2 separate regions of the Homo sapiens genome follow, and region 1 is linked to region 2. The links come from fine-mapping of genetic effects on gene expression. A gene starts in region 2. The other region holds a variant in brackets. All regions are shown on one strand. Distances are from middle to middle.

Region 1 (15,481 bases), 150 kb before region 2:
AAAGACTTGAATAGGTACTTAAGAAAAGAAGATACATGAATGGTCAATTAGCATAGGAAAAGATGCTCTACAGTTTAGCCATCAGGAACATCAATCAATACAACAATGAGATACCAGTACATGTCCTGTACATATGAGATACCAGTACATATCTGGTGCCTGGGATTACAGGCACCGGCCACCATGCCTGGCTAATTTTTTGTATTTTCAGTAGAGGCAGGGTTTTACCATGTTGGCCAGGCTGGTCTTGAACGCCTGACCTCAGGTGATCTGCCCGCCTCAGCCTTGCAAAGTCTTGGGATTACAGGCATGAGCCACCAGGCCCAGCCAAAATGATTCCATTTTTATGAAGCACATGATCAAGCAAAATGAATCTATGGTGGCTGCTAAGTTTAAATATTGGTCCCCTCCAAATCACATGTTCAAATGTGGTCCCCAGTGTTGGAGGTGGGGGTAAATGGGAGGTGTTTGGGTCATGGGAGTGGATCCCTCATGAATAGATGAATCCCCACCCTGGGAGAAGGTAGTGAGTGAATTCTCACTCTCTTAGTTCCTGTAGGAGCTGGTTATTAAAAAGTGCCTCTCACCTTTCCTTGCTCTCTTTTGCTTCCTCTCTCGCCATATGATCTCTGCACACCCTGGTTCCTTTTCACCTTCTGCTGCAAGTGGAAGCAGCCTCAGGCCCTCATTAGGAGCAGATGCGGGGGCCATGCTTCTTGTACAGCCTGCAGAACTATGAGCAAAAGGCACCTCTTGTCTTGATAACTTACCCAGCCTCTGGTATTCCTTTCCAGCAACACAAAGGGGCTAAGGCAGTGACAACATTCAGAATATATTCTTCATTTGGGGGATGAGTATTGACTGGCAAGGACCACATCAGAACTTTGTGGCATGGGGGAAAATGTTCTCTGTCTTTAACTGGGTGTTACTTTACAATTATAATTATATTAAAATTTATTAAGCTGTGCCTTTAGGTTTTTTTGCAGTATACTCTACGCAAATTTTACCTCAGTGAAAAACTGTTAGCATACAACAGACAGATAACAAACACTCAAAAAGGTGAAAATTGACAGAAAATAGGTAACAAATATTTAGCATATAAATAAGAGGGATCCGTTGAGAAGAAACCAAAAGCAACGGAATAGAACAAAGACAAAAAAGTATAATAAAAAGAGTTTTAAATTTCAAAGTTTGAAATGATATTAAAGTGGCACACTGTTTCCTTGGGAAAATCAAGTGAGAACCACAAGTCTGAGACTAATTCCAGCAAAAGTATGTAAATCAGTTTGATCTAATGGTACAAGGTTAGCTTTGAAGGCCAAAAGGAACGGATATCTAATTCTTACTCCTCTCCTCACTAGTTTTGTGACCTAGGGAAATTTTGCAATCTTTCTGAGTTTGTTTTCTCATCAGGAACAGGATAATACCTAAGTAACAGGATAGTTGACAGATTTAAATATGATCGCATGGCGGTGGACATGAGCCGTAATTAGTTGTTAAGAATATATTGACACTGAACTCTCCTTTATCCATGTTAAAATTGTAGATAAACAACAATTGACAAAGAATAGACAAAATGTTCTAACATAAATATTCTTCCCTTGTTTCTAGAAAGAAGTCACACATACGGTAAAAATAATTAGAGAGGACCTAGTTCATATTGAACAATCTTCCCCAAAGCCTGAAACAGGTCTTCTTTCTAACACCAGAGATATCTTGAGTGAGTCCAACCCCTGCAGTCCCCTCTGTCTGGAATAGATGGAGGAAGTTTGCTCCAGCCTTAGAAGAGCATGGGCTGGCAAGCGTTCTCAGAGAGGTCTCGACTTCAACTCTAAAGGGCCTGAGGAATATGTGCAACTGGGTCGGGTTAAGGCCAAGCTGAATCACATGACCAGGGCTCTCACCAGCGCCAAAGTCAGTGGAAGGATATCAGTCCCCAGAGCTCTGTCACAGGCCATGGATGCTCCATGGAGGGGTGGTGAGCATATGAATAACAATCAAGAGAAACATCGGTAATGGACAGGAGGCATCAATAAACAATGTCCACCCTCCTCTAAAACCCAGGAAAGTTCTCATTCAAAAGACGATGTCTTGAAGGAAACCTAGGTACAAATCTTTGTGATTTTGGATTAGACATTTTTTAAGTAGGCACAAACAACCGAAAAATAGATAAATGGACTTCATTAAAATAAAAAACTTGTATGCTTCAAAGGACACTGTCAAGGAAGTGAAAAGATAATCCACATAATGGGAGAACTATTTCCAAATTGTATGTTTGACACAGGTCTAGTACCTAGAGTGTATAAGGAATTCATATAACTGAGCAATAAACGACAACCACATTTAACAATGGGGAAAAAAAGCTGTGAGTAGAGGTTTCTCTAAAGGAAACACACAAATGGCCAAGAAGCACATGCAAAGATGTTCAATGTTTTTCGTCATTAGGAAAATGTAAATTTAAACCAAAATGAGATACCACTTCACACCCAGCAGTATGACTTAAGAAAAAAATAAAGACAACACATGTTTCAAAAGTGATGGAGAATATGGAATTCTCATATATTACTATTGGGAATCTAAAATGATATAGCTACTGAAGTTAGTAAACAGTGTGTGAGTTCCTCAAAAAGTGAAACATAAAGTGACATATGATGCAGCAATTGCACTCCTAGGTTTATAACCAAGAAAATGAAAAACAGATGTTCACTCAAAAACCTGTACAAAGCTGTTCACAGCAGCATTATTCCTAATAGTTAAAAAGTGGAAACATCTTAAACCACCATGAGTTGATGAATAAACAAAATGTGGTATAACCATATAGTGGAATATTATCTGGCCATAAAAAGTTGAAGTACTGACGCAGGCTAGAAAGGATGAAACTTGAGAACAATATTCTAAGAAGCAGATAGAAAATACCACACTTTGTTATTCCATATAGAGGAAGTGCCCAGAACAAGTACATCAATATATAGAGAAGGTAGATTAGTGGTTGTCAGAGAGCGCAAGAAGGGGGGAATTGGAGAGTGTCTGCCCATAGGTACAGGCATGCTTTTTGGCATTATGAAAATATTCTGGAATTAGGTAGTGGCGATGGTTGCGAAAGTTTTGGAATATGGTAAAAGACACTGAAATGTATGCTTAAAAATGGTGAATTTTGTGATGTATAAATTCTACTGTAGAAATAATAATAACAACAAAAGTAATAAAGCAAGGTGTCTTTCCACATCTCCATGTCCAGTATTTTCATTAAAAAAAAGAAAGAAATAAAAGCATTTCAGGGCCAGGTTCAGTGGCTAACTTCTGTAATCCCAGCACTTTTGGAGGCCTAGGTGGGAGGATCGCTTGAGGCCAGAAGTTCAAAACCAGCCTGAGCAACATAGCAAGACCTTGTCTCTATGAAAAATATAAAATTAGCCAGAAATGGTGATGTGTGCCTATAGTTCCAACTACTTGGAAAGCTGAGGCAGGAGGATCGCTTGAGCCCAGAAGTTCAAGATTGCCGTGATCTATAATCACCAGTGCACTCCACCCTGGGTGACAGAATAAGACCCTGTCTCAAAAAAAAAAAAAAAAAAGCATCTCACTTTAATAGTAAGTGGCCAAAATATGATGCTGGCTGCATGTTGTGAGGAAATGTGTTAGATGAAAGAAGTCAAATTGCAGAAGATTTCCTTTTCTCAGAAATGAGGTATAGGGGAGAGAAGCACTGGTCCACCTGAGATCTGGCTCCAGGACTTACAACAAGGGGAACTTGGGCAAGTTACAGACTCTGTGTGCCTCAGTTTCTTCATCACCAAACAGAAAGAATCATCCCATAAACTGTAAGGTCAATGCTGTCAGTGAGTCCCCAAATTGACTGCACATCTGAGTCATGTTAACAAACATTCCAGGCCCCACCTGAGCCCTCTGAATCAGAATCCCTGCAAGGAGGACAATGAACTTGTATTTGCACTGACTTTCCCAGCTGTTTCTTACTTTGATCAAGTTGGGGGTGGGACCCATTGAGCTGCATCACATCATTCCAAAGCCAAAACACAACAGCAGAACAAGAATATTTTCAATGCGGTCTCTAAAGCGGAGGAGAAACTGTTGAGGGAACCTAGAAGTAAAGGACATCTGGCTTGCTGGGCTCCATTTAAACTTTGAGTATAGCAGAGACACGAGCCCTTCGGGACACATGCCTGTCGCAGTGACACTCCAACTTCGGAAGAGTGGAAGCCCTGATTCCAAATTCAAGCATGCTTTGAGTAGAAATTAAGTTTGCCTCTTTTTGCACAGGAAGATGGCCAATCTTTCCTAAGCTGCTCACCTTACAAGAAAACGAATCGTACTGCTAAGAATTCAAACTTCAGCAGTCATGGGTAAGTAAGGAAGTCTTATAAATCTATTTTAGCCACCTAACAAGAAACTAGAAATTTAGCAAGTTCTTTCACATTCAGGACAGTTGTGTTGACTAGATCAGAGGCACTGAGACATGAAGAACAGACCCCTAAAAAGGGAAAGTGTTCCTTTCAGTTTGAGGACATCACTGGAATATTAGGGAAGTGGAAACACAGCTGCCCACTCTACAGTATGGGTTGCCTTTGTGTCCGGAATGTGCCTAATGTCCTGATCTCTGTGCCCTTTTCAGGGAGCCTTGGAAGGAGCCCGAATCACTGATGGAATTGGACAGTGCATGGAGATGGTTCAGCAGGACAAGGGTAAGTGCAGGGGCAAGTCCAGGTCATACTGAGAGACAACGAGTGGCGCTGACAGAGACAGACAAAGATAAAATCAAAAGTTTGTGCTTCATCTTCAAAAACTCAAACTAATAACAAACTTGGCCTTATGAGAAATAATAAGTATTTTTCTATTTACATGAGAATTTAATCTCAAAACAGGAATCAGAAACATATTAAGTCCAGGGCATAAAACCTAAACCACTGCTCATATTTATTCTTTCTAAATAGAGCAAAGTGTAAAATCTTCTCCATAAAATGCACATTGTGCTTATGAAAAGGCCAGTCTTAGTGAGAATCATTGGTATTCCATAGAAGAGTGAATTAAACACAGCCAAGGGAAGACCCAAGTCTCATACTTCTCTTGTATATTCCAGAGTTCCAGGGGAATTCCAGGTGATAGAGGTGATCTCCCATACTGTTAAAGCAAGGTTGCAGACACTTGGGAATTTTGGTCCCAGTACTCTAGGAGGTCACACCTCTGTCCTGGAAAATACTACAGGAATGTATACTCTTCCTATGACTCATTCTGGTCATTCTTCCAGCATCACAAAAACCAAAAAAAAAAAAAGGAAATATGTCCAAATACATGATTTGCTATCCCTCCTCTTCAGGTTTCTTACCTGTTACTTACGGATAACAGCATTACCACAGGATTATGATGAAGATACAATGTCCAAATATAAACACAGTTTTGAGCAAAATGCCTTGTACGAATTGGTCAATGAACAACTAGTAAATAATTATGTGAATATTTACTGAATTATATGGATCCTATGAATAATTACTGAATAATTCATGTGATTGCTTTTATTGGCAGTGCTGAAAACTCATCCCCGTGTGACCTCAAGTAAGCCATGTAACTCTGTGAACCTGCAGTTTTATCATTTTTAAAATAAAGAAACATGACAGATTTTCATTATGACACAGAATGTCAGGTCTCCCAGATGCCAGAAAATACATTTACTTAAAGCCGTTGATACGTCTTAAAGCGGTTTCCTTACAGTGTCATTGGAGGACAGTGTGGAGTGCAGAGAGACATGCTTTGAAATGGGATTGATCCAGTCCTCCTTCCTTCACTACCACATGAATGCTGGGCAGCCCAGGGTCAACCCACCGCACCCTCAACTCAGGCAAGTCCAGCAGCCAATCTTAGGAGACCTGGGCTACAGAACAGTCTCCCAAGTTCCAGGCTCACAAAACCTAGGTGGGGTGAAAGCTGAGAAAGCGAGGAGGTGGTTCAGGGGATCACTCTTTCCTACTCATTCCTCTCATCTCAAACTCACCTTCTACTGCAACACTGAGGATCACCAACCAACCGTGACCATAACCTTGATCTTGCCATGTTCTGTTAGTGGAATGCAACCCAAAATCAATGGTGTTAGGTCATCTCAACAAAATATATATCAAACCATATTGCATAAGAACCGCTCATGGCCCTGTTCTTTTCAGTATATGGGAAAACAAAATGGAAACAACAAAATAGCATCAGGTTTATGAAACTTCCCAAGATAGATGGTCACACATGTTTTCAGGAGATCTCTATATAAATGATTTTGATCACTTGATACCTTGAAAAGAGCTCTTGTGACACTAGAATGACATCCATAAGTGACAAGTATAAAATGTAGCGCTCAGTGACATCAAAAACCAAATCAACCCACATAGAGGAAGAGCTCTGGACATAGGGATGTCAAACTGGTCTAGAGTGTAATGAAAAGCAAAGATGGTGCCCCAGTGAGAAAAAAGAAATCAACATAACAATGGGAAACAGCAAGAAGAATACTGAGACAGGAAAGACAACATTTTTTACAAATGAATTATTCATTCACTTTCTAGTGGATACAGACAAAACTGCAGAAGACCCAGAGGAAATCAGGGCAGGCTAAAAGTTTGATATCTTACACCTGTGGAAAGGCCTTAAGCTCTGTTTTAACTGAGAGCAGGTGGGGTGACTTCATGACTACCATTAAGAAAATACAACCTGTTGGGAAACTGTTTCTGCCTTGATGATGTTGTACAGACAAGAGATAAACAGTGAGGAATATGCTTAGATGTATTGGGAAAGACACGGGTCTGTGGCATCATCACAAGGGTACACGAATACTGAGAGTGAATGCTGAAGGAATGATCCCCATTGGTGGTGACCCTCAGGTGAGACTAGGGTGCCTGTGTTTCAGGAAAGCCTGGGCAATTGGAATGCAGGGCTCCTAAGATTCCATGACACCCCCACCTTCTAATTCTGTTATTGCAACTGCAGACGGTTACCTGGCACGCTGGCCACAGTCTACCTCACTCTTATCAGAGTCTGAGCTACTGGCAGTGCTTTCAGCTCTGAGTTCAGGCACCTCGAACCTTGTTTTTGTGGTGAAGGATCCTAAAGTGCTGTGGGGAGTGATCACATTTTTCACAACAGTAAGTTAAGAATTTCAGTTACTGACATCCCTCAGTCCTGATTAAACCTATTTGATTTCACCAGTTTTTAACCCATCATATGTTTGGGTTTCTTCTCCCCAGTCCCTGGCTCCACCTCTTCTGCCACAAACGTCAGCATGGTGGTATCAGCTGGCCCTTGGTCCAGCGAGAAGGCAGAGACGAACATTTTAGAAATCAACGAGAAATTGCGCCCCCAGCTGGCAGAGAACAAACAGCAGTTCAGAAACCTCAAAGAGAAATGTTTTGTAACTCAACTGGCCGGCTTCCTGGCCAACCGACAGAAGAAATACAGTAAGATCTATAGGCTCACCATCATGAAAGTGATGAATGATGTCCTGTCTTCTCTCTGAGACACTAAATGCTCTCTCCATCAAAAATAATTTCATCCTTCCTGTACTTCTAGGAAAACAGAAATGGGTATTTTAACATTTTGTTAAAGTTGGAAGACAGAGGTACCAAAGTATTTAGCAACTTTCCATGTTTGCAATCAGGTGGGGGTGGGACTAGAGTTAAACTCACAGTTATTGATTTCTAACACAGACACAGAACGACCTGTTTTCTCCAAGAGGCTCAATCATGTTTTCAAGAATCCTCTCTGTACCATATAAGATCCTGCAGACAAATAACATCTAGTCTGTTGTTCTAAATGTCTGAGACTAGTGAACTTTTATTCAGTTCAAGTTTCTGTTGAGGCCCAACAGGCAAGGCTCTGTTCTAGTGACTCTGAGGGAAACTTGGTGATAGTAGCCAGTACCTGCTCTGAGGGGCTTCAAGAGGAGTCTGCTCCTAATAGAACCTGTGCTATCTATAAGTGACAGCATCAAGAGCAGGGAGTAGGGGCCGTGCAACGTGGCTCACTCCTGTAATCTCAGCACTTTGGGAGGCTGAGGCGGGCAGAGCACGAGGTGAGGAGTTTGAGACTAGCCTGGGCAACATGGAGAAACCCCATCTCCACTAAAAATACAAAAAGTAGATGGGCGTCGTGGCGGGCAACTGTAATCACCACTAATCGGGAGGCTGAGGCAGAAGAATCCTTTGAACCCAGCAGGCAGATGTTGCAGTGAGCCAAGATTGCACTATTGCACTCCAGCATGGGTGACAGGGCAAGACTCATCAAAAAACAAACAAACAAAAAGATAAATAAAACAAAAATAAAAATAAAAAGCAGAGAGTACCTTGGTGAGAGTGAAGTCCTGCTTCCTGGTGCACAGGCTCTTGTTCCTAAAGAGGAAGAAAGATCACACCCGAGAATGTGTGGAAGCAGCAGTGCAGTGTGCAAAGCAGGGACCCTCAGCCTGTCTCCTGGGCTCCATCCAAGTTGCTTGTCTTGTCTGTCCCTCAGTTTCCTCATCTGTTCAGAGGGTACTACAATAATACCTACCTCTGTAAATTGCTGCAATGAATTACATGAGGTATTTCCTGTCAATCTCCTTGAACATTAATTGGCACAGTGTAAACACTATCTATTAGTTCTTCATTCTGATGTTTCTAAATTAACACAAACTAATCTTATGCTGTTTCTAAATTAACACAACTAATCTAAATCTTGATGCTGCCTGTCATACTAATAAAATATTTGGGCATATTTCCTTCATGGCCTTATGGTGTTATGTGTCACACTTTATGCTTCAGATATGATTCTTAAAATCATAACTGAAGATATGATTTAAAAATCAAAGATTTTTAAAATCTTTCGCATACTTGTCTTTGAAATTCCCAGTAAAAGGGAAACCGTCAGTCCCATAGTCCTAGGGGCCTTCCCAACTGTACAAGAAATCACTACTTCATGCCCCAGTGCAGTGTTTCAGAGGAGAGGCTGCAAGTCTTGGGAAAGTGGCCCCGCATTCAGAGTCAGACCTCAGGGGCTGTGAGTTCTGACTCCACTTCGTTGTGGTTGAATCATCTTGTCAACTTCCTTGATGTGCCTTGAATTTCTCTTTCTTCGTCTTTAAATTTTGGAGGATAAGATGCCAGAAAGTCAGGAGACTGAAGAGTAAAGATGTGGAAATCCCTGCCTAGAGCCTGGTACGGGGGACAGTTTTGTCCTTGGGATGGACCTGGCTTCTGCCCTGTAGGCAGTGACCACAGCAGCATGT[C/A]CAGCCTTCCACTGAGGCAGGCGTGTCTGTCTTTTCTCAGAGTATGAAGAGTGTAAAGACCTCATAAAATTTATGCTGAGGAATGAGCGACAGTTCAAGGAGGAGAAGCTTGCAGAGCAGCTCAAGCAAGCTGAGGAGCTCAGGTGAGGGGACCCCATGGGGGCAGGCAGGGGAGCAGCTGTGTAAATCTCTGAAGTACAGCAGCTCGGTGGGGAGACGTAAGAGCTAAGCTGGGCCAGGGGAAGGGCAGGAATTGCCATGGCAGGCTCGCAACACACAAGTATTTATCAAGCAGAGAAGAAGGATAATAAAAATTTATGGGTTGCAGTTGTTTCTTAGAGCCTTGTTTTCTCTTTTTCAAACAAGTAATTGTTGATGTGAAATTTACATAACACAAAATTAACCAAAGGAGTGTGAACCACACAGCAGCATTCAGTATACTCAAAATGGTGTGCCATCGCCACCCCACTTACCCTTAGTGAGAATCACCTTCTGACTGACTGCGTCTTCTCATTCTTTCACTCAATCAATGTTGCCTTCTCGACCCTGTCATTCTTTTCTTCTTTCGTCTTTTCAATTCGCCCCATCTGCACCTGGCCTCATTTCTGTACATGGCTTTGTATCTAGTGGCCGCAAGATGCACTATGTGTATTTTCACATGGAAATGTCCATGGCCAGAGTGAGGAACTGAAAGGATGTCTTTTTGAAACGGAATTAGGAAGACACCTACTTTTGTTTACAGAAGGGAAAGATGAATGGAACATCATCGAGGATCTTGCAGGAGCCCTCTCTGATACAGAGGAAGCCTGTAAACCATTTTCTATTCTTTCTCTTGGCCACAGTCATTCCTTTCAACATGTGCTGACCTTCTGCTTGGAGGTCTCCTTGAGGACATTGTCTCAGAAATCTCTGTTGCAATATTTGAACGGATCACTCAACCCTTTCCACTCTTAAATTTTCTCTACCGTCTCACCTTAGGCAATATAAAGTCCTGGTTCACTCTCAGGAACGAGAGCTGACCCAGTTAAGGGAGAAGTTACGGGAAGGGAGAGATGCCTCCCGCTCATTGAATCAGCATCTCCAGGCCCTCCTCACTCCGGATAAGCCAGACAAGTCCCAGGGGCAGGACCTCCAAGAACAGCTGGCTGAGGGGTGTAGACTGGCACAGCAACTTTTCCAGAAGCTCAGCCCAGGTAAGGTGGCCATAGGCCCTGATGACCCAAAACCCCAGGCTTATGAGAGGCTCCAGACCTCCATACTTTCACAATGACAGTTGTATCAGTGGGGTTTTTTTCTGCTATACATATGTGGCCATGACATGACCAGGACTTCCTGGGTAAGAACAGAGATGGGAAACCCATGGGGTTGGAGGTCACAGTATTGCAAGTGTCCCTCCTTCCTTGATGGAAGGTGGTCTTTGGAGCAAGAGGCAGCATCTGTCTAGTTTTAAAGGACAGGAAGGAGGCTGTGATGGGAGGGCGCTTGTTGGAGTGAAAAGAGCTCTGGGCTAAGAATGAAGGTTCCCAGGCTGTCTTTTTGACAATGTTCTTAGTAACTGTCGGTGAGTGAGTGATTTATCTTTCCAGAGTTTCTCTCTCTCCATCTGCAAAGGCAAACAAATTGTCTCTTGCAAGGGTCTGAAGCATCCAAATATGGGAACACTTACGAATGCTTTTTAAAATGAGATGAAGCCCCTCTCCGTTTGGTGTTGGAGAAGGCACTTGGTGTAGGGGCATTTGGTGGTAGGAAGTGCTTCAGACTGGAGCACTCCCCGTGGATAGAATGTCCCTGAATAACACAGCAGAAGCCACATGGAGGGCCTGTGCAGTCTCATGATGCATAGAGGACTGTGGGACAAGTTTGTCCTCTCCTAAGAGAAAGAATGAGGTTTGAAATGCGAACTGTGACAGGACACCAAGCCTGTTCCTGGGAATCAGATATGTGGCAGGATGGGGGCGACAGCTGCCAAAGTCCAGAGAGAGGCTGCACAAGCCTCCAGTGATATGGGAAGCAAAAGGTCTTTTCAATATTTGACCACATCTTGATGGTGGCCCTCCAGATCAGAAATGCATTGCCCGATGGACCAGGAAACCATGCCAGGGCATTTTGTGAAAGATAAAATATGACAGTTTTCAGTACAGTGCTGAACCATACATAGATGTTCATGTCTCTGTGCACATTGGGCTGACTGTGCTTGCAGAATGTGAAGTGGGAAATATCTGAACGAACATTTTGTATTTACAGAAAATGACGAAGATGAGGATGAAGATGTTCAAGTTGAGGAGGCTGAGAAAGTACTGGAATCATCTGCCCCCAGGTAACACTGAATACTCGGGAGCAAGTAATGGGTGGTAACATATGAAAATGTGTAGGAGGCACACCCTCTCTGGCATCTATGATGGGCCAAAAGCCCGCATTCGCTTGGCCACAGTATGTGAAATTCAACCCAGCTTAGACACAGGGTGCGGCAGCTGTCGTGTTTCTCTATGTGTGCCAAGTGTCATGTCTGTACCATACAGGGATAGCTGAGTCTTCATCCTCCTCAGCTCCTATCTGTCCAGTGCACTGAACACCAGCTGCTCTCTTCCTCTCTGGCTCCCATGGCAGCCATGCTCTGTTGCAGAGAGAAGAGGATTGCCTGTTCCCCCTTAAAGGGAACCTCCATTTTGCTTTCTGGGACCACTGTCTTAATGCCGCCTGTCAAAACCAGCTAGGACTCCCTGGGGTCCAATCCCTCTGTGTTTAATCTTCTGTCATCTCTGTCCCACCTGGCTCATCAGGGAGGTGCAGAAGGCTGAAGAAAGCAAAGTCCCTGAGGACTCACTGGAGGAATGTGCCATCACTTGTTCAAATAGCCACAGCCCTTGTGACTCCAACCAGCCTCACAAGAACATCAACATCACCTTTGAGGAAGACAAAGTCAACTCAACTCTGGTTGTAGACAGAGAATCCTCTCATGATGAATGTCAGGATGCTGTAAACATTCTCCCAGGTAGCCTCTATTTTCCTTGTGTCTCATACCTCTGTCTAGGCTATGGAAGATCAATTCTGAGGACAGGCTGTATATACACATATTGTTATTCTTTTAGTCAGAAACTAGGATGGAGCTAGGTTCTGTGACTCACACATATAATCACAGCACTTTGGAAGGCCCAAGTGGGAGGATGACTTGAGTTCAGGAGTTGAAGACCAGCCTGGACAATATGGTGAAACCCATCTTTACAAAGAATACAAAAAATTAGGCAGGCATGGTGCTGCGTGCCTCTAGTCCCAACTGCTCAGGAGACTTAGGTGGGAGGATCGGCTGAGACGATCCTCCCACCCTGGTTCACTCCTCTCAGGCTAGACTCTCTCTCCTTTTCATTGGCTTGTCTTAGCTATTAATAAGAAGTCTCGGCCGGGCGCGGTGGCTCACACATGTAATCCCAGCACTTTGGGAGGCCGGGGCGGGTGGATCACGAGGTCAGGAGATCGAGACCATCCTGGCTAACACGGTGAAACCCCGTCGTTACTAAAAATACAAAAAAAAAAAATTAGCTGGGCACGGTGTTGGGCGCCTGTAGTCCCAGCTACTCGGGAGGCTGTGGCAGGAGAATGGCATGAACCCAGGAACCGGAGCTTGCAGTGAGCCTAGATTGTGCCACTGCACTCCAGCCTGGGAGACAGAGCGAGACTCCATCTCAAAAAAAAAAAAAAAAAAAGTCTCTGACCGGGGGTGCTGGCTCACATCTTAATCCCAGCACTTTGGGAGGCCAAGGTGGGCGGAACACCTGAGGTCAGGAGTTCGAAACCAGCCTGTCCAAGATGGCGAAACCCAATCTCTACTAAAAATGCAAAAATTAGCTGGCATGTTACTTGGCGCTTGTAATCCCAGATGTTTGGCAGGCTGAGGGATGAGAATCACTTGAACCCGGGAGGCAGAGGTGGCAGTGAGCTGAGATTGCGCCACTGCACTGCAGCCTGCGTGACAGAGTGAGACTCCGTCTCAAACAAAAAACAAAAAACCAAAAGAGAAAAATATCGAAAAAGGAAAATGCAATCTTTTGTGCTACACAGAAACATTGGCCACTCATGGGGTAAAAATCTCAGGGCCCAGCCTTGCTTTATAGAAACTTATAAGCAAGAAAAGTGTAGAAGTGTTTATGTCCTGGTTTCAAGGTGACTGCATAGCTAAGACAAGTTGACTTAAAGGAGATCAAGACTGGAGATGACAAGAGTGAAACCAGGGAAACAACATTTTCAAATAAGTAGACAAGGCTGCCACTGACATCCCTCAGTGTGATTAAACCTATTTGATTTCACCAGTTTTTAACCCATCATGTGTTTGCCTTTCTTCTCCCCAGTCCCTGGCCCCACCTCTTCTGCCACAAACGTCAGCATGGTGGTATCAGCCGGCCCTTTGTCCAGCGAGAAGGCAGAGATGAACATTCTAGAAATCAACGAGAAATTGCATCCCCAGCTGGCAGAGAAGAAACAGCAGTTCAGAAACCTCAAAGAGAAATGTTTTGTAACTCAACTGGCCTGCTTCCTGGCCAACCAGCAGAACAAATACAGTAAGATCTATAGGCTCACCATCACGAAAGTGATGAACGAAGTCCTGTCTTCTCTCTGAGAAACTAAGTGCTCTCTCCATCTAAAATAATGTCATCCTCCCCATACTTCTAGGAAAACAGAAATGGGTATTTTAACATTTTGTTAAAGTTGGAAGAGAGAGGTACCAAAGTATTTAGCAACTTTCCATGTTTGCAATCAGGTGGGGGTGGGACTAGAGTTAAACTGCCATTTATTGATTTCTGACACAGGCACAGAATGACCTGTTTTCTCCAAGAGGCTCAATCATGTTTCCAAGAATCCTCTCTGTACCATGTAAGATCCTGCAGACAAATAACATCTAGTCTGTTGTTCTAAATGTCTGAGACTAGTGAACTTTTATTCAGTTCAAGTTTCTGTTGAGGCCCAACAGGCACAGCTCTGTTCTAGTGACTCTGAGGGAAACTTGGTGATAGTAGCCAGTACCCGCTCTGAGGGGCTTCAAGAGGAGTCTGCTCCTAATAGAACCTGTGCTATCTATAAGTGACAGCATCAAGAGCAGGGAGTAGGGGCTGTGCATGGTGGCTCACTCCTGTAATCCCAGCCCTTTGGGAGGCTGAGGCGGGCAGATCACAAGGTCAGGAGTTTGAGACCAGCCTGGGCAACATGGAGAAACCCCATCTCCACTAAAAATACAAAAAGTAGATGGGCATGGTGGCAGGTGACTGTAATCACCCCTGCTCAGGAGGCTGAGGCAGGAGAATCCTTTGAACCCAGGAGGCTGAGGTTGCAGTGAGCCAAGATTTTGCCATTGCACTCCACTCTGGGTGACAGGGCAAGACTGGTAAAAATAATAATAATAATAATAATAATAATAATGATAAATAAAAATAAGAATAAGAAGCAGAGTGTAGCTTGGTGAGAGTGAAGTCCTGCTTCCTGGGGCACAGAGTCTTGTTCCTAAAGAGGAAGAAAGATCGCACCTGAGAATGTGTGGAGGTAGCAGTGCAGTGTACAGAGCAGAGACCGTGGGCCTGTCTCCTGGGCTCCATCCAAGTTGCTTGTCTTGTCTGTCCCTCAGTTTCCTCACCTGTTCAGAGGGTACTACAATAATACCTACCTCTGTAAATTGCTGCAGTGAATTACATGAGCTATTTCTTGTCAATCTCCTAGAACATTTATTGGCACACAGTAAACACTATCTATTAGTTCTTCATTCTGCTGTTTCTAAATTAACACAAACTTTATTAGCATTTGGGCATATTTCCTTCATGACCTTATGGTGTTATGTGTCACACTTTATGCTTCAGATATGATTCTTAAAATCATAACTGAAGATATGATTTAAAAATCAAAGATTTTTAAAATCTTTCGCATACTTGTCTTTGAAATTCCCAGTAAAAGGGAAACCGTCAGTCCCATAGTCCTAGGGGCCTTCCCGACTGTACAAGAAATCACTACTTCATGCCCCAGTGCAGTGTTTTAGAGGAGAGGCTGCAAGTCTTGGGAAAGTGGCCCTGCATTCAGAGTCAGACCTCAGGGGCTGTGAATTCTGACTCCACTTCGTTGTGGTTGAATCATCTTGTCAACTTCCTTGATGTGCCCTTGAGGTTCCCTTTCTTCATCTCTAAATTTTGGAGGATCAGATGCCAGAAAGTCAGGAGACTGAAGAGTAAAGATGTGGAAATCCCTGTCTAGACC
Region 2 (15,481 bases):
CACTGGCCTCCCAAAGTGCTGGGATTACAGGCGGTGAGCCACCGTGCCCGGCCTTTTTTTTGTTTTCTTTTCTTTTTGAGACAGTCTTGCTCTGTCACCCAGGCTGGAGTGCAGTGGCGCAATCTCGGCTCACTGCAATCTCTACCTCCTCGGTTCAAGTGATTCTTGTGCCTCAGCCTCCCAAGTAGCTGGGATCACAGGTGTGCACCACCACGCCTGGCTAATTTTTGTATTTTTATTAGAGACAGGGTTTTGCCATATTGCCCAGGCTGCTCTGGAATTCCTGGGCTCAAGCGATCCACCTGTCTTGGCCTCCTAAAGTGCTAGGATTACAGGCATGAGCTACCATGCCCAGGCAAGAGGTAATTTTGTAATCAAGGCTGAACTGATTCAAAACCAACAGCCCTAGAGTCTGTGGTTTCTTGTCAATTTATCTGCCTTGTGTTCCAACCTCACCAAGATTCCTTCAGCCTACAGCAGTAGTTCTCAATCAGGGGTGATTTTGCTCCCCTGTCCCCAAGAGGACATCTGGCAATGTCTAGAGATAATTTTGATTGTCACAACTTGGGGGGTGCTACTGGCATCTGCTAGACATAGGCCAAGAATGCTGTGAAATGTCCTCACTGGGCTCCACAGCTCTCCAAAACAAAGACTCATCTGGCCCCAGGTGTCAACAGTGCTGAAGCTGAGAAAGCCTGGCCTAGAGTGATATGCTCATTACCTCATGGGAAAGTAAGAGTCTAACATGACCCAGGCATGACCTTGAGCTAAGAGCACCTTGGGGTGGGTCCCACAGGGGAGGCTCAGCCCTAGGCAGTGCCTGTTACGTTAGGGAGTCATGTTAAAGTCACAGCTGGCTGGGCACAGTGGCTCACACCTGTAATCCCAACACTTTGGGAGGCCGAGGTGGGCGGATCACGAGGTCAGGAGTTCAAGAACAGCCTGGCCAATATGGTGAAACCCCGTCTCTACTAAAAGTACAAAAAAAATTAGCTGGGCGTGGTGGGGGGGCGCCTGTAATCCCAGCTACCCGAGAGGCTGAGGCAGAGAATTGCTTGAACCTGTGAGGCAGAGGTTGTGGTGAGCTGAGATCGTGCCACTGCACTCCAGCCTGGGTGACAGAGCAAGACTCCATCTAAAAACAAATGATTTTTTAAAATAAAGTCGCAGTTACCAAATTCCTCAGAGAACGAGGTGTTACCATTCTCTTATGACACTACCTGGGGTGTCCCAGCAATTCTCCAGCTTAAAGTCTCTGGTCTGGCCATGGCAGCTGCCTCTCCAAACTCCTCTGCCGCCAGTACCCAAGTTCCCGAAGAACACATCAATGCTTTGGGTTGCCTCGCAGTCCGTAAAGCATTACAGAAATATCTGCTCACTTCCTATTCTCCAACAATCTTATGAAGGAGGAACTAATATGATCCCCATTTCAACAAGGAGGAGGCCAAGGCCCCAGAGGTCATGTGGCTCACCCCACATCCAGCAGCTCAGGCAGAACATAGTTCTGAGAAGAGGCAGCCAGTTCTCTCTCTAAACTTTTGCACTTTCTCTTCTGCTCTACAAAGGAAAATCTCTACATATTAGAAAAAATAAATGACCGAATGTTGTGGCACCTGACTGAGCAGACACTGTGTCCGACCCCACTAGGGGTCTCGGCTGGGGGATTCCAGGTGCACTGCCCTCCACAGCTCACCCAGAGGCACAGGTGGCCCAGGACTTGTGAAGTTTCCCCCAAGACGATCTCTGCCAGCTGACCCCAACACAACCCAGCTCAGCTCGTCCTCTCACTACAGAAAGAGCTGAGTAGGACAGTTTCCAGCTTCTTCGGTTAATGGGTGTGGTCAGCTCTGGGAGTTACCGCTGCATTGATAAACAATTCCTCAGTAGGAAGCAGAGCCCAGCGGCAGAGGGCTGTGCATCCTCACCCGCCTGTCTTCAAGGCCACTTCCAGGGCTTCCTACTTCCTACCAGGACCAAGCTGCGGTCTCCTCTCCTTGGCCCCCACATTTTCCTGAGGACTCCTAAAAGGAACTAGTGTTTGACATGAAATACTCATTTTTACACCTGGAGACGGTACTTTCTACAACTAAGGTGGGGGAATGGTACAGCTTAAAGGTACACACACGTCTCTGATTTTTCAGGACAGGTTCCCATGACCCCTGAGCAGCCTGGCCAGACCAGGCCACCTCTCCCTTCATAAAGTGGGGTGCGGCCCCTCAGCTTGATGCAGCCTCCCTTCCGGTTACCTGACGTCCTGTCCTCCAGCTTGATGTAGGCCATCTGTCCCTTTGCAGTGATCCTCAGCCGGCCACTCCATGATGGCTGGTCCAGCTGCCACTCCGCAGCCCTAAGGGGACAAACACCACTGAATCTCTGCCAGAGGCTCCTGCTGTGTGACCCCAATGCTGGGAATGGAAAGGGCTGCTTATTCTAGCCCAAGAGTTGGCAAACATTTTCTGTAAAGAGTCAGACAGTAAATATCTTTGGCTCTACAGGCCACACAGCCTGTCACAACAAGGCAGCTCGGCTGCTGTAGGGTAAAATCAGTATAGAACATGCACGTGGTGATGCTTTAGGTATCTTAACTATTTTCTACTGAGCACAGCTGTATTTCAATCAAAGTGTAGACACTGAAATCTGAAATTCATGTAATGTTCCCAGTATGAAATACTCTCCTTTAAAAATTTTCCAAACCATTTAAAAAATGTAAAAACTATTCTTAGGTGTGAACCATACAAAAACACACTGGGTTGTCACTTGGTGACCCCCTCTCTAGACCACAGTGTCCTCCTCCACGTAGGACTTCCTTCCAGTTTCCTTTCTATAGAAGCAGCAGCTGCAGGGGCCTGATTCTGTTTCTGACACTGCTTGACTGCAGCAGTCAGAGCGACCATTTGAGACCAGTGAGACTATCTTGAAAGAAAAAGACAGCATGGAACAATCACCAGAAGAGAAAAGGAGAACAACAGTACATGTGAGAAAAGTGAATGGGTCCTTAGGAAGAAACCCAGGAAACCATGAACCTACAGCAATGCCTCTTTTGGCTCTAATTTGTTTGAGACGGGGTCTCACTCTGTCACCCGGGCTGAAGTGCAGTGGCGCAACTACGGCTCACTGAAGCCTCAACCTCCTGAGCTCAAGAGATCCTCCCACCTCAGCCTCCTGAGTAGCTGGGACTACAGGTGTGTACCAACACACCAGGCCAATTAAAAAAAATTATAGAGATAGGGTCTATGTTGCCCAGGCTGGTCCTGAAGTCTTGGGCTCAAGGGATCCTTCCACCGAGGCTTCCCAAAGTGTTGGGATTACAGGCGTGAGCCACCACAGCCAGCTGTTTTGACTCTTTTAAAGCATTAACTTCACATTTTAGTTCTAAGAAAAGGTCAGTTAAATCCCCAAATAGCAAGAACCGCAGGTGTTTCCAGGAGGCTTTTCTTAGAAGTCCCTATGCCAGTTCTCAAGAACCCTGGACGCGGCTGTCTTGAGGGCTGCACAAATGCAGATTCTCAATTCACAAATCAGCAGACTCAGTTCCTGTTCCTCTTACCAGGCCTGAGATTCAGGCTAAGGAGAGCTCCAAGACTTAAGTGCAGGCACTGGTAGTTTCCTCTAAGCTAAACCAGCCAGCCCTGACAATTCATAACCTCGCTCTCTGGGGCACCAAGAGGAACCAAATCCATCCTACTAAAGACCCAATAGGGGGCCGGGCGCGGTGGATCCTGCCTGTAATCCCAGCACTTTGGGAGGCCGAGGCGAGTGGACCACCTGAGGTAGGGAGTTCGAGACCAGCCTGACCAACATGGAGAAATCTCATCTCTACTAAAAACACAAAATTAGTCGGGTGTGGTGGTGTATGGCTGTAATCCCAGCTACTCGGGAGGCTGAGGCAGGAGAATCGCTTGAATCCGGGAGGCGGAGGTTGCAGTGAGCCGAGATCGCACCATTGCACTCTAGCCTGGACAACAAGAGGGAAACTCTGTCTCAAAAAAAAAAAAAAAAGACCCAACAGGAGATGGGGCTAGACGACCATCAATGGTTTGATGGTCCAACCACAGTTTGATGACAGAAAACAAATGTATTTTGGTTATTGTTGTTTTTGTTTTTATACTATTTTAAAATATGTCATGAATGTAATGTTCACTAACGCATCTTTTCACCATAAGATCAGCTATGAGCCCACGGTAACACAACTGGAAAGTAACAAGAGGAAATGTGGACGTTCCATCATTCTTGGGGTGCAGACCAATCCTGTATTTCCGAAAAACTTGGACAACCATCGCCTTCAAGAGCCACCCAGGCCCCCGCAAATACGAGCACTCCCCACCACCACTCAGTGGCACAAAATAGCCATAGGCCAGGTTGTCTGTATGAAGTGTATCTTTTTTCTTTTAATATTTTTCGTCGTTTTGATAGATAACGCATACAAAGAGTAGTAAAACGCAAACAGCACAAAAGGGAAAGGAAGTTTCCTTCCAAGGGCGGTTCCCCTCCCCTAGGGCAGTTTCCTGTGTTCCTTTGCAGAGATACTCAGTATGTTTACAAGCGTGTGTGTTTATTCGTCTCAGGTAGAGACCAGAGAAATATAGAAGGGGTCCTCCCAACTGCTCCAGGCTGTGATCAAGGGTGAAATTCGTGCGAAGGGATCTGGGTAGGAAGGGGTCCCTGGGCTTCGACCGTCACCTTAAAGCTCCCCGGGACCGGTCCTTTCAGCCGGCTCTGGGCTCCCTCCCCTCCTCTCGGGGATTTCCGTCTGTGATAGGGCACCTCCCCGCTTAAGGCTTTTCGAGGATCCCTTCAAGGCCACCGGTTAGCGCTGAAAGAGAAGCGTCTGTGACATCACCACCCCCGACCAAGTTTAGGGTACCCGGCAGCCCACCGGGGTCCCTAAGCGCTAGATACGGCTTTAACGCCCTCCCCGCCGCCAGGAGTCCCGTGCGTCGAACTGAGACGGGCGAAACTCTGGATCCACCTCCCTGCTCGGGCCTGGAACTGGAAGAAGCAGCAGCATTAGCTCCCCCTCGCCCCAAAACTGGCCAGGGCTGTCCTCGGTTCCCGCAGTGGGTGTGTCCGGGTGGCGGAGAAAGGGTTAAATTGGAGCTAGCCTGGTCTGGCGGTGGGTAGTCACCTGTAGCCACGGTTGGTAGCCCGCGGAGGGATGCGGTAGACGTGGACGTCAGGCTTGACACAGAGCACCGACTCGTACCCGCTCTCCTCCATCGCGACGCCTGGAGCCCACCGAACTTCCGGCGACTTCCACCGTTCCTCTGTCCGACGGACGGAAGCGGTGCGACTCTCTGACCAGGTTTCGGCTAGAGCGGCAGCTCGCGGGCCTCAGCACCGCCTCGTTTGTGCGCCCTCTGCTGGAAACCCGGCTCAAGACACGTGGCGGGCGACCTCCGGAGGCTTCTCCCTCCCTCCAGAGGCTTCTCCTTCCCTCCAGACACCCTCCGACGCAAAGAAAGCGCCCTGCGCCCGCCATGGACAGACCCCTCTGTAACCCGTGGTCTGGGTGTGGATCATCCCCATCGCTTCAGTTTCTTAGGCCTGGGGCCCAGTTGACCGAGAGGCAAAGCTGTAGCCCACCCTGCAGTATCTCTGTCCTCCAGCCTTTGCCTCGGCGCCTCCTCTGCCTGAATATCCTTCCCTCTCCTGACTGTAAGGCTCAGCTGGCACCTGACCCACCAGACTAAATAGATGCCATTACCCTACCACCCTCCATGCTTCCCCTAGGGGAACCCACTTATATGCTCAGGGCCCCGTGTGGCCAAACCTCAACAACGAGTTGTATTCAAAGAAGTAAAGTTTAGTAACACAAGTAATTTAAGAAGAATTCCAGGCCGGGCTTGGTAGCTCACGCCTGTAATCCCAGCACTTTGGGAGGCTGAGGCGGGCGGATCACCTGAGGTCAGGAGTTCGAGACCAGCCTGGCCAACATGGTGAAACCCCGTCTCTACTAAAAATACAAAAATTAGCCGGGCTTGGTGGCGTGTGTCTGTAGTCCTAGCTAGTTGGGAGACTGAGGCACTAGAATCGCTTGAACCCGGAATGCGGAAGTTGCAGTGAGCTGAAATTGTGCCACTGCACCTCAGCCTGGGTGACAGAGCGGGACTCTGTCTCAAAAAAAAAAAAAAAGAAGAAGAAGAATTCCAGTCTTAACTTCGATTTCTCCCAGAATATTCTGGGAGATACAATGTCTACCCTAGCCAAATTCTCAAAATCCCTCCTTCCCTACCATTCTCTCATTGAGTTGAGTGCCTGCAATGTGCCAGCCCCTATGTGGGGGTGAAGCTGATCCCAAACTTCTGATTCACTGAATACCCCAAACTTTCCCCACCCCTTCTTTCCTTTTCTCTCTCACTCTCCTTCTCCTTTTTACTTTTTTTTTTTTTTTTCTTCAGACAAAGTCTCACTCTGCCGCCCAGGCTGGAGTGCAGTGGTGCAATCTCGGCTCACTGCAACCTCCACCTCCCGGGTTCAAGCGATTCTCCTGCCTCAGCCTCCCGAGTAGCTGGGATTACAGGCACCCACCACCAAGCCTGGCTAGTTTTTGTATTTTTTTGGTAGAGACGGGGGTTTCATCTGGTTGGCCAAGCTGATCTTGAACTCCTGACCTCAAGTGATCCGCCCACTTCGGCCTCCCAAGTGCTGGGATTACAGGCGTGAGCCACCACGACTGGCCATTTCTACTCATTTTTTATAAGCTTTTTATTATAGGATTGATCTAACCACTTACATTTTTATTGTAAAATATACATAACATAAAATTTACCATTTTAAGTGTACAATGCTGTGAAATTAAGTACATTCACAATATTGTGCAACTATATCATGCTTTCCAGAACTTTTCATCATCCCAAACAGAAACTCCACACCCATTAGCAATAACTTCCCATTTCCTTCTGCTCCATCCCTTAGTAACCTCTGTTTTACTTTCTGTCTCTATGAATTTGCCTTTTCTAGATACCTCTTATAAGTGGAATCATACAATATTGGGCTTTTGTGTTTCTTATTTCACTTAGCATCAAGTTTTCAAGGTTCTTTCATGTAGCATGGATCAGAATTTCATTCCTTTTAATGGAGGGATAATATTCCATTGCATGTATATACCATATTTTGTTTATCCATTCATCTGTCAACAATTGGGATGTTATCACCTTTTGGTATTGGGAATCGGGCTACTATGAGCATTGGTGTTCAAACACTTGTTCTAGTCCTGTTTTCCATTTTCTTGAGTGTATACATAGGAGTGAAACTGCTGAGTTATACAATAATGCTATGTTTAGTGGTTTTGTTTTGTTTTGTTTTGTTTGAAACAGCATCTCACTCTGTTGCCCAGGCTGGAAAGCACTGGCATGATCATGGCTCACTGCAGCCTCAACCTCCCAGGCTCAAGTGATCCTCCCAACTCAGCCTCCCAAGTAGCTGGGACTACAGGTGTGAACCACCATGTCCGGCCTTGCTCACCTTTTTGAGGAGCCTCCAAACTGTCTTCCACAGCAGCAGCACCATTTACGTTCACAAGGGTTTCAATTTCTTCACATTTTTGCAAATATTGGTTATTTTTCTTTTCTTTTCTTTTCTTTTTCTTTTCTTTTTTTTTTTTTTTTTAGACAGGGTCTCTCTCTTTCTTTCTCTCTCTGTCACCCCACACTGGAGTGCAATGGTGCGATCATCACTCACTGCAGCCTCAAATTCCCGGGCTCAAGGGATCCTCCTGCCTCAACCTTTTGAGTAGCTGGGCCTACAGGCACACACCACCCTACCCTGCTATTTTTCTTACTTTTTGTAGAGACGGGGGTCTTGCTATGTTGCCCAGGCTGGTCTTGAATTCCTGTCTTCAAGAGATCCTCCTGCCTCAGCCTTCCAAAGTGCTAGGATTATAGGCATGAGCCACCATACCTGGCCTTATTTTCCAATTTTTTTTTTTTTGAGACTAAGTCTCACTCTACCACCCAGGCTGGAAGACAGTGGCATGATCTCAGCTCACTGCAACTTCTGCCTCCCAGGTTCAAGTGATTCTCGTGCCTCAGCCTCCTAAGTAGCTGGGATTACAGGCATGCGCCACCATGCCTGGCTAATTTTTGTATTTTTAGTAGAGACGGGGTTTCACCATGTTGGCCAGGCTGGTCTATAACTCGACCTCAAGTGATCCACCCACCTCGGCCTCCCAAAGTGCTGGGATTACAGGTGTGAGCCACCGCACCCAGCCATTCAGAGCACTTTCAGTTCTGTTCAGTCTAACAAAGACAGGCATCGAGCACATACCCTATGCCAGGTGCTGAGTACTGGGGTCACTGGGATGTGGCCAATCCAGCTCCTACCATCCTGGAGCTCGCAGACTGGAGGAGACAGAGAGAAAAGCAGTCATTGGCAAAGCAGAATGAAAGGTACTGTAATGAAGCAAATTCACAGGGGCCTGTGGGAGCAAAGAGAAGAAACCCCACACAGTCTGGGGAGAGTCAGGGAAGGCTTTCTGGGAGAGAGTACCCTGGCCCAATAATCACTGTGAGGTTGGCAAGGCAACGATTGTTATCTTCATTGTGTAATGGGGGCCACTGAACCAGTGACAAGCTGGGGGAAATGACACTGTCCAGTAGTTGGAGGTCACACAGCCCCTTGCCTTATTCTCAAACCCTAACCACATGGCTGGATATTCCTGAAATGCATTCCTAAACCTCTGCTGCTGAGAATAATTGGACCTGCCATCTATTCCCAGTTTAACTGCCCTGTATACCAAACAAATCCAATTCAAGCCAACAGGCAAAGTATAGGCTCAGACAGAGCCCATCCTATGTGCAAGGCGGTGAGCAGGGGTGGAAAATCTCACTGTGACTCATCCAGCTGATTTCTGGTAGGTGCAGGGCCAAGGTGGGGTGTAAGGTGAACAAGCTTTCCCTGACGGCCTCCAGACATATATATGATATGCCACTTATCTTTATCTGCTGTATTTTCCTGCCATCATAGATATTTCCAAGAGAAATTCTCCCATTTTTCAGATGAGGAAACCACTTATAAAAGGGGCACTCAATACCCAAAGAATTTTGAAAAAGAACAAAGTTGGAGGACTCACACTTCCTGATTTCAAAACTTTTTATTTATTTATTTATTTATTTGTTTTTCCATAGGTTATTGGGGTACAGGTGGTATTTGGCTACATGACTAAGGTTTTTGTTTTTTGGTGTTTTTTTTTTGTTTACATTAGTAATTTTTTTTGAGACGGAGTCTTGCTCTGTTGCCCAGGCTGGCGTGTAGTGGTGCAGTCTCTGCTCACTGCAACCTCCATCTCCCAGGTTCAAGCGATTCTCCTGCCTCAGCCTCCCAAGTACCTAGGATTACAGGCAGGCACCACCATGCCCAGCTAATTTTTGTATTTTTAGTAGAAACAGGATTTCACCATGTTAGCCAGGGTGATCTCAAACTCCTGACCTCGAGTGATCTGCCCCCCTTGGCATCCCAAAGTTCTGGGATTACAGGCGTGAGCCACCTTGCCCTGCATGAGTAGGTTCTTTAGTGGTGATTTGTAAGATTTTGGTCCACCCATCACCTGAGCAGTATACACTGCACCCTATCTGTATTTTTTTTTTTTTTTTTTGAGACAGAGTCTCACCCTGTCATCTAGGCTGGAGTGCAATGGTGCGATCTCGGCTCACTGCAACCCTCCACCTGCCAGGTTCAAGCAATTCTCCTGCCTCAGCCTCCTGACTAGCTGGGATTACAGGCATGTGCCACCATGCCCGGCTAATTCTGTACTTTTAGTAGAGACGGGGTTTCTCCATGTTGGTCAGGCTGGTCTCAAACTCCCAACCTCAGGTGATCTGCCCGCCTCGGCCTCCCAAAGTGCTGGGATTACAGGCACGCACCACCACACTCAGCTAATTTTTTGTATCTTTAGTAGAGATGGGGTTTCACCTTGCTGGCCAGGCTGGTCTCAAACTCCTGACCTCATGATCCGCCCGCCTCAGCCTCCCAGAGTGCTGGGATTACAGGTGTGAGCCACCGCACCAGGCCGATAAATGGGACTTTTACAAAAATTTAAAACTTCTGTGCTTCAAAAGACAAAAAGGTGAAAATGTAATCCACATAATGGGAGAAAATTTTTGCAGATCATATATATGATTCAGGACATGTATCTAGAATTTATAAAGAACATTTACCGTGCAATAATAAAAAGACAACCCAGTATAAATGGACAGAGGCAGGCTGGGTGCTGTGACTCATGCATGTAATCCCAGCATTTTGGGAGGCTGAAATGGGAGGATCACCTGAGCCCAAGAGGTCAAGGCTATAGTGAGCCACGTTCATGCCACTGCAGTCCAGCCTGTGGACAGAGTAAGACCCTGTCTGAAAAAAAAAAAAGGGGGGGGCCGGGCATGGTGGCTCACACCTGTAATCCCAGTACTTTGGAAGGCTGAGGTGGGCAGATCACCTGAGGTCAGGGGTTTGAGACCAGCCTGGTCAAGATGGCAAAACCGCGTCTCTACTAAAAATACAAAAATTAGTCTGGTGTGGTGGCACACACCTGTAATCCCAGCTACTAGGGAGGCTGAAGCAGGAGAATTGCATGGACACGGGAGACGGAGGTTGCAGTGAGCTGGAACTAGGCCACTGCACTCCACCCTGGGTGACAGAGCGAGACTCCATCTCAAAAAAAAAAGGACGAAGGCTCTGAATAAACATTTTTCCAAAGAAGATAGACAAATGGCCAATAAGCACATGAAGATGTCCAACATTATCGGCCATTGGGGAAATGCAAATCAAAATCAGAATGAGATAACACTTTACACTCACATCCACTAGGATAGCTATGATAAAAAAGACAAGTAAGGCGGTACAGTGGCTCACACCTGTAATCCCAAAACACTGGGAGGCTGAGGCGGGAGGATCCCTTGAGCTGAGGAGTTCAAGACCAGCCTGGACAACATAGTGAGATTCCCATCTACAAAATATTTGAAAATTAGCCAGGTGTGGTGGTGTGCACTTGTAGTCTCAGCTACTCAGGAGGCTAAGGTGGGAGGATCCCTTGAACCCCAGAGTTGGAGGTTGCAGTGAGCTATGGTCATACCACTGCACTCCATCCTGGGTGATAAAGGAAGACCCTGTCTCAAAAAATAAATAAATAAATAAATAAGACAGATAATAACAAGTGTTGGAGAGGATGCAGAAAAATTGGAGCAGTCATATGCTGCTGGTAAGAAGGTAAAATGATACAGCCACTTTGAGAAAGTCTGGCAATTACTCAAAAGCTAAAAATAGAGTTGACATGTGATTCAGCAATTCCGTTCCTATATACATAACCAAGAGAAATGCAAATGTATGTTCATATAAAAACTTGTACATGAATGTTCATAGCAGTGTTATTCATAATAGGTAAAATGTGGAAACGGGCCAGGCATGGTGGCTCACACCTGTAATCTCAGCACTTTGGGAGGCCAAGGTGGGAGGATCACTTAAGCTCAGGACTTTGAGCAGCCTGGGCAACCTAATGAGACCTCGCCTCTATTTAAAATTAAAAAATTTTTAAGACGAACCAGGCATGGTGGCATGCGTCTGTAGTCCCAGCCAGCCACTCAGAGGCTGAGGGGAGAGGATCCCTTGAGCCCAGGAGTTTGAGGCTATAGTAAGCTACGATCGCACTGCTGCACTCCAGCCTGAGTGACAGAGCAAAACTCTGTCTCAAAAAAAAAAAAAAGAAAGAAAAAAGAAACAACCTCAATTTCTATCTACTGATGAATGGATAAACAAAATGGGGTCTAGCCATACAGTGAAATATTACTCAGCCATAAAAAGGAATGAAATTCTGATGTGTGCTACAACATGGATGAACCTTGAAAACATGACGTTAAGTGAAAGAAGCTACTCACCAAGGACCATATATTGTATGATTCCATTTATATGGAATGTTCGGAATAGACAAATCCACTAAGACAGAAAGTAGATTAGTGGTTACCTAGGGCTGGGTTTGGGGTGGGAAGATTGGGGATGATGCCCAAGGGGTGTGGGGTTTCTTTTTGGGGTGATAAAAATATTCTAGAATTAGGGCGAGGGTGGTACAACTCTGTGAATATCCTAAAAGCCGTTGAATTGTACACTTTAAATGGGTGAACTGTATGGTATGTGAGTTAAATTTCAATAAAGCTGTAAACAAAAAAGGGTCCCAAGTGATCTGAAAGGGTGACATAGTCGATATTTGTCAACTTCTCTCCCAGTTCTACCCTTGGATTCCAAGCCCCTCTGCTAGGGCTGGGGCTTCCCCTCCTTGTCTAGATTCTCAGAGTTAGCAAGCTCCAGATGTGGACAGATAGGGGCTGGAGCCCCTCTGGGGCTTCTGCCTCCGTAAAACTTCAGTTTGTGGAATACTGGGGCCTGACAATTCCAAGGCTGAGCCTGCACATTCTCAGGCAGAGACAGTGGACAATAGGGGGTGTGTTTGAGGGGCGTAGGGGGAGATTTTCCCTAGGTGGTTCATCCACCCCTGAGACAGGAAGACTCAGAGGAAGCGGGAATGGCTAGGGGAACCCTAATGAGAAAGAGGCTGGGGAGGGGCAAGGAACTCCAAGGCAAGAGAGAAGGACTTGGCCACAGCCCTGACTTTTCCGCTCCAGGTGACAGCCTGGTCCTTCGTGAGGCCAGAGCTGCACCAGGGGTGGGAGGTCACCCCACCAAACCAGCTGAGGTCTGCTTTGCATGGCAGGGGTGCAGCTGTAACTGCAGGAAGGGCCTGGAGGGCAGGAAAAGGAAGTGCGAACTTGGGTCAGCAGCTATTAAGTGCGCCTCCTCTGTGTCCCTGGTAAACTGTGGGAACCGTCAGGACACCCAGTGTATCCCCTAAGGCCTGACGTTGTCCCTAGCACGGGCACGTGTCATTAAACAGTTATCGATTGCACAAGGAAATGAATGAATGACTTAAGCTTCTTTGTAGGCAAAATGATATGATGAGATGAGTGGCCATGGGAGTCAGACAGGCCTGGGTTTGAATCCAGTTCCTCTGCAGACTGGCCATGTGGTATCGGACAAAACATTGCTCAGAGCCTTAATTTCCCTATCTTTAAAACAGGGCTGAACCCAGACTTCACAGGGCTGTTAGGAGAATACTGTTTACAAAGGTTTCCAGCACATGGAAGGTTCCTCCGTGGATGCTGGCGGGCCTGCCATGATTTAAAGTGGAAGAAGCACCATCAAGATCTTCAAGGTCATATGGTCTCACTACAGGAGGAAGGGGCATGGGGGTTAGGATTTACTCCTGGAAACTAGTTAACAGTGAAAGGGGGTCCATGTACCCATAGAAATGGTGCTGATGTTGCCTCAAAGGAATTCAGTGGCTGGAGAGAGAGCTGAGATGGTTGGAAACTTGGAGAAGAGGGAGGAGCTTGAAGGATGGGTTGGGGGCTATCGGAAAGATAGAAAAAATGGGAGGTGGGCACAGAGGCTGGGGTCTGTGGGACTAGGATTGCAGGAGCCTGCCTGGATTAAAACAGAAAGTTTGTGTAGGGGGTGGTGGCACAGCTGAACATGAGGTTGGATGAAAGAGGTGGAGGAGAGATGAAAGGCTTCAGAAATGGCCAGGTGCAGTGGCTCACACCTGTAATCCCAACACTTTGGGAGGCCGAGGCGGGCGGATCACTTGAGGTCAGGAGTTCAAGACCAGCGTGGCCAACCTGGTGAAACCCCATCTCTACTAAAAATACAAAAATTAGCCGGGCATGGTGGCGGCCGCCTAAAATCCCAGCTAGTAGGGAGGCTGAGGCAGGAGAATTGCTTGAGCCCAGGAGGCAGAGGTTGCAGTGAGCCAAGATTGCAGCACTGCACTCCAGCCTGGGCAACAGAGCGAGACTCTGTCTCAAAACAAACAAAAAAAAAAAAAAAAGAAGAAGAAGAAGAAGAAAAGAAAAAGAAAAAGAAAGGATGTGTCCAGGGCAGGGTGTGGGTGCTTTGGTGAACTGCAGATTGCCGCTGGAGACTTTGGGGCCCTGAGACAGATGGACAGATGTCCCTAGTTCTTGTTCCTTAGCCCCATCTAAGAACATGGAGTTTTCATCTATAGCAGGAGCAGCTGTGACATTCTTGGACTCTCTTTAAAAGGCACATTAGTATTTTAAAGGCTCTGAGAAGTTGTACAGGAAAGAGCCTGTATCATTTCGCTCATCACAGCACTTTCCAAAGGCATTTAGCCTTGGAACCCCTTGGAGCATCTGAAGGGACCAGTATGCCAAAGAATACCCTGTAGGAAATGTCGCCGTCGGGGAAAGCGCCTGGGTTTTGGGATTCAACAGGCCATGGTTCAAATCCTCGTCTGCGACCTAGCAGGTGTTAGATCTTGGGCAAGTCTTGTGCCTTCCAGAGCCCCTTTTCCTCAGGGTCATAGTGAGAACTAGGAAAAGCGTATGGGTAAATGGCATGTGGCTAGCTCTCTGGTTTTGCTGCGTGCCTCTCCTTGCAAGGCCTGGCCCCGCCTCTTCCCTCGAGCCAGGCTGTCTACATTATAGGCTCCAAGTGGGCTCCTGAAGCAGCAGTTAGGTGATGGGCTTGGTGGGACGCTTGATTGGATTTCTCCTGTAGGAGCACACTAGGTGATGCCCCTCACTTGGCACCCGTGTTGGCGCTGGCATCATGGACAATAGAAACACCCAGATGTACACGGAGGGTAGAACCAAGGCTCCAGGGACGCAGCCAAGTCCTGGCCTGAGGATCACCATAAAGAGGGCTGGTGTTGAGCCCATCATACCAGGAGTCAGCAAGGTAGGGACCTGCACCCCATGTTCTGATCCATTCACTCCTAGCTGGCACCTTTCCCTTCCCCTGCCCAGGCTTCCTCCCCAGCTGCTTTAATTAAGACTCTGTTAAAAATGGACACAAAACCCAATTCAAACTGGATTAAGCAGAAAAGAGAATATATCAGTTTGGGTAACTGACACATGCCTTCATAGACTTCAGGTATGGCTAGATCAATGTGCTAAATGAGTATCTCTTGGCTCTATGTTCCTCCGTGTTGGATTCATTCTCAGGCAAGCTCTCCCTGCAAGATGGCAGGGATTGCCCTGGCCACTCCAGGATTACATCTTCCCATCTTACACCCTCTGGTTTAGCATTCCAACAGGAAGTGAGCCTCTTTGCAATAGTTGAAACAAGTCTCTAGCATCACTGTCATTGGCCCAGATTGTGGTCAGATGCTCATCCTTGAACCAATCACCATGGCAGTGGGGAGTGGTCTGGATCTCTTGATACAATGGAGACAGAGGTGATAGGTGGCTCCACTGAGCCCCATGGGCTGAATGGAGAAGAGAAGCTTCCCAAAAACAATGCTGGCTTCTGTAACGGAAAGAGCTGCAGGGTGAGCAAACCCAGAATTGCCTACTCGCTCTTCTAGGTGCCTTGCATGGCCTCCAAACTCCCCTCACAGCCTCCAGCCCAGCTTTATTCTCCTGAGAGCTACTCAGGGCTTCCCTCCATGCCCCTCCCCAGAGCCCAGCCTGCATCCTAAGCT

What was found. PIP is the estimated chance that this variant, and not a neighbour inherited with it, causes the effect.
Region 1: its variant is fine-mapped to the expression of SPATA21 in cerebellar hemisphere (GTEx, PIP 0.97).

Annotation. Positions count from the first base shown.
Region 1 is chr1:16,583,811-16,599,291 of GRCh38, reverse strand. It overlaps NBPF1 (NBPF member 1), which reads left to right. Exons shown (of 18, transcript NM_001405701.2): 3 at 4,279-4,361; 4 at 4,631-4,700; 5 at 5,539-5,851; 6 at 6,979-7,133; 7 at 7,236-7,445. The coding sequence starts at 7,271. Among named protein-coding and RNA genes, the nearest start is that of NBPF1, 22 kb to the left of the region's middle. RefSeq lists a silencer at 7,220-7,409 and an enhancer at 8,737-9,236. The variant C/A (reference allele first, on the strand shown) is at 9,251.
Region 2 is chr1:16,430,498-16,445,978 of GRCh38, reverse strand. It overlaps SPATA21 (spermatogenesis associated 21), which reads left to right and starts at 8,555. Exons shown (of 13, transcript NM_198546.1): 1 at 8,555-8,851; 2 at 13,055-13,189; 3 at 14,557-14,641. The coding sequence starts at 14,608. NECAP2 (NECAP endocytosis associated 2) reads right to left here and starts at 5,255. Exons shown (of 8, transcript NM_018090.5): 1 at 5,126-5,255; 2 at 2,247-2,347. The coding sequence starts at 5,217. RefSeq lists a silencer at 7,655-7,825.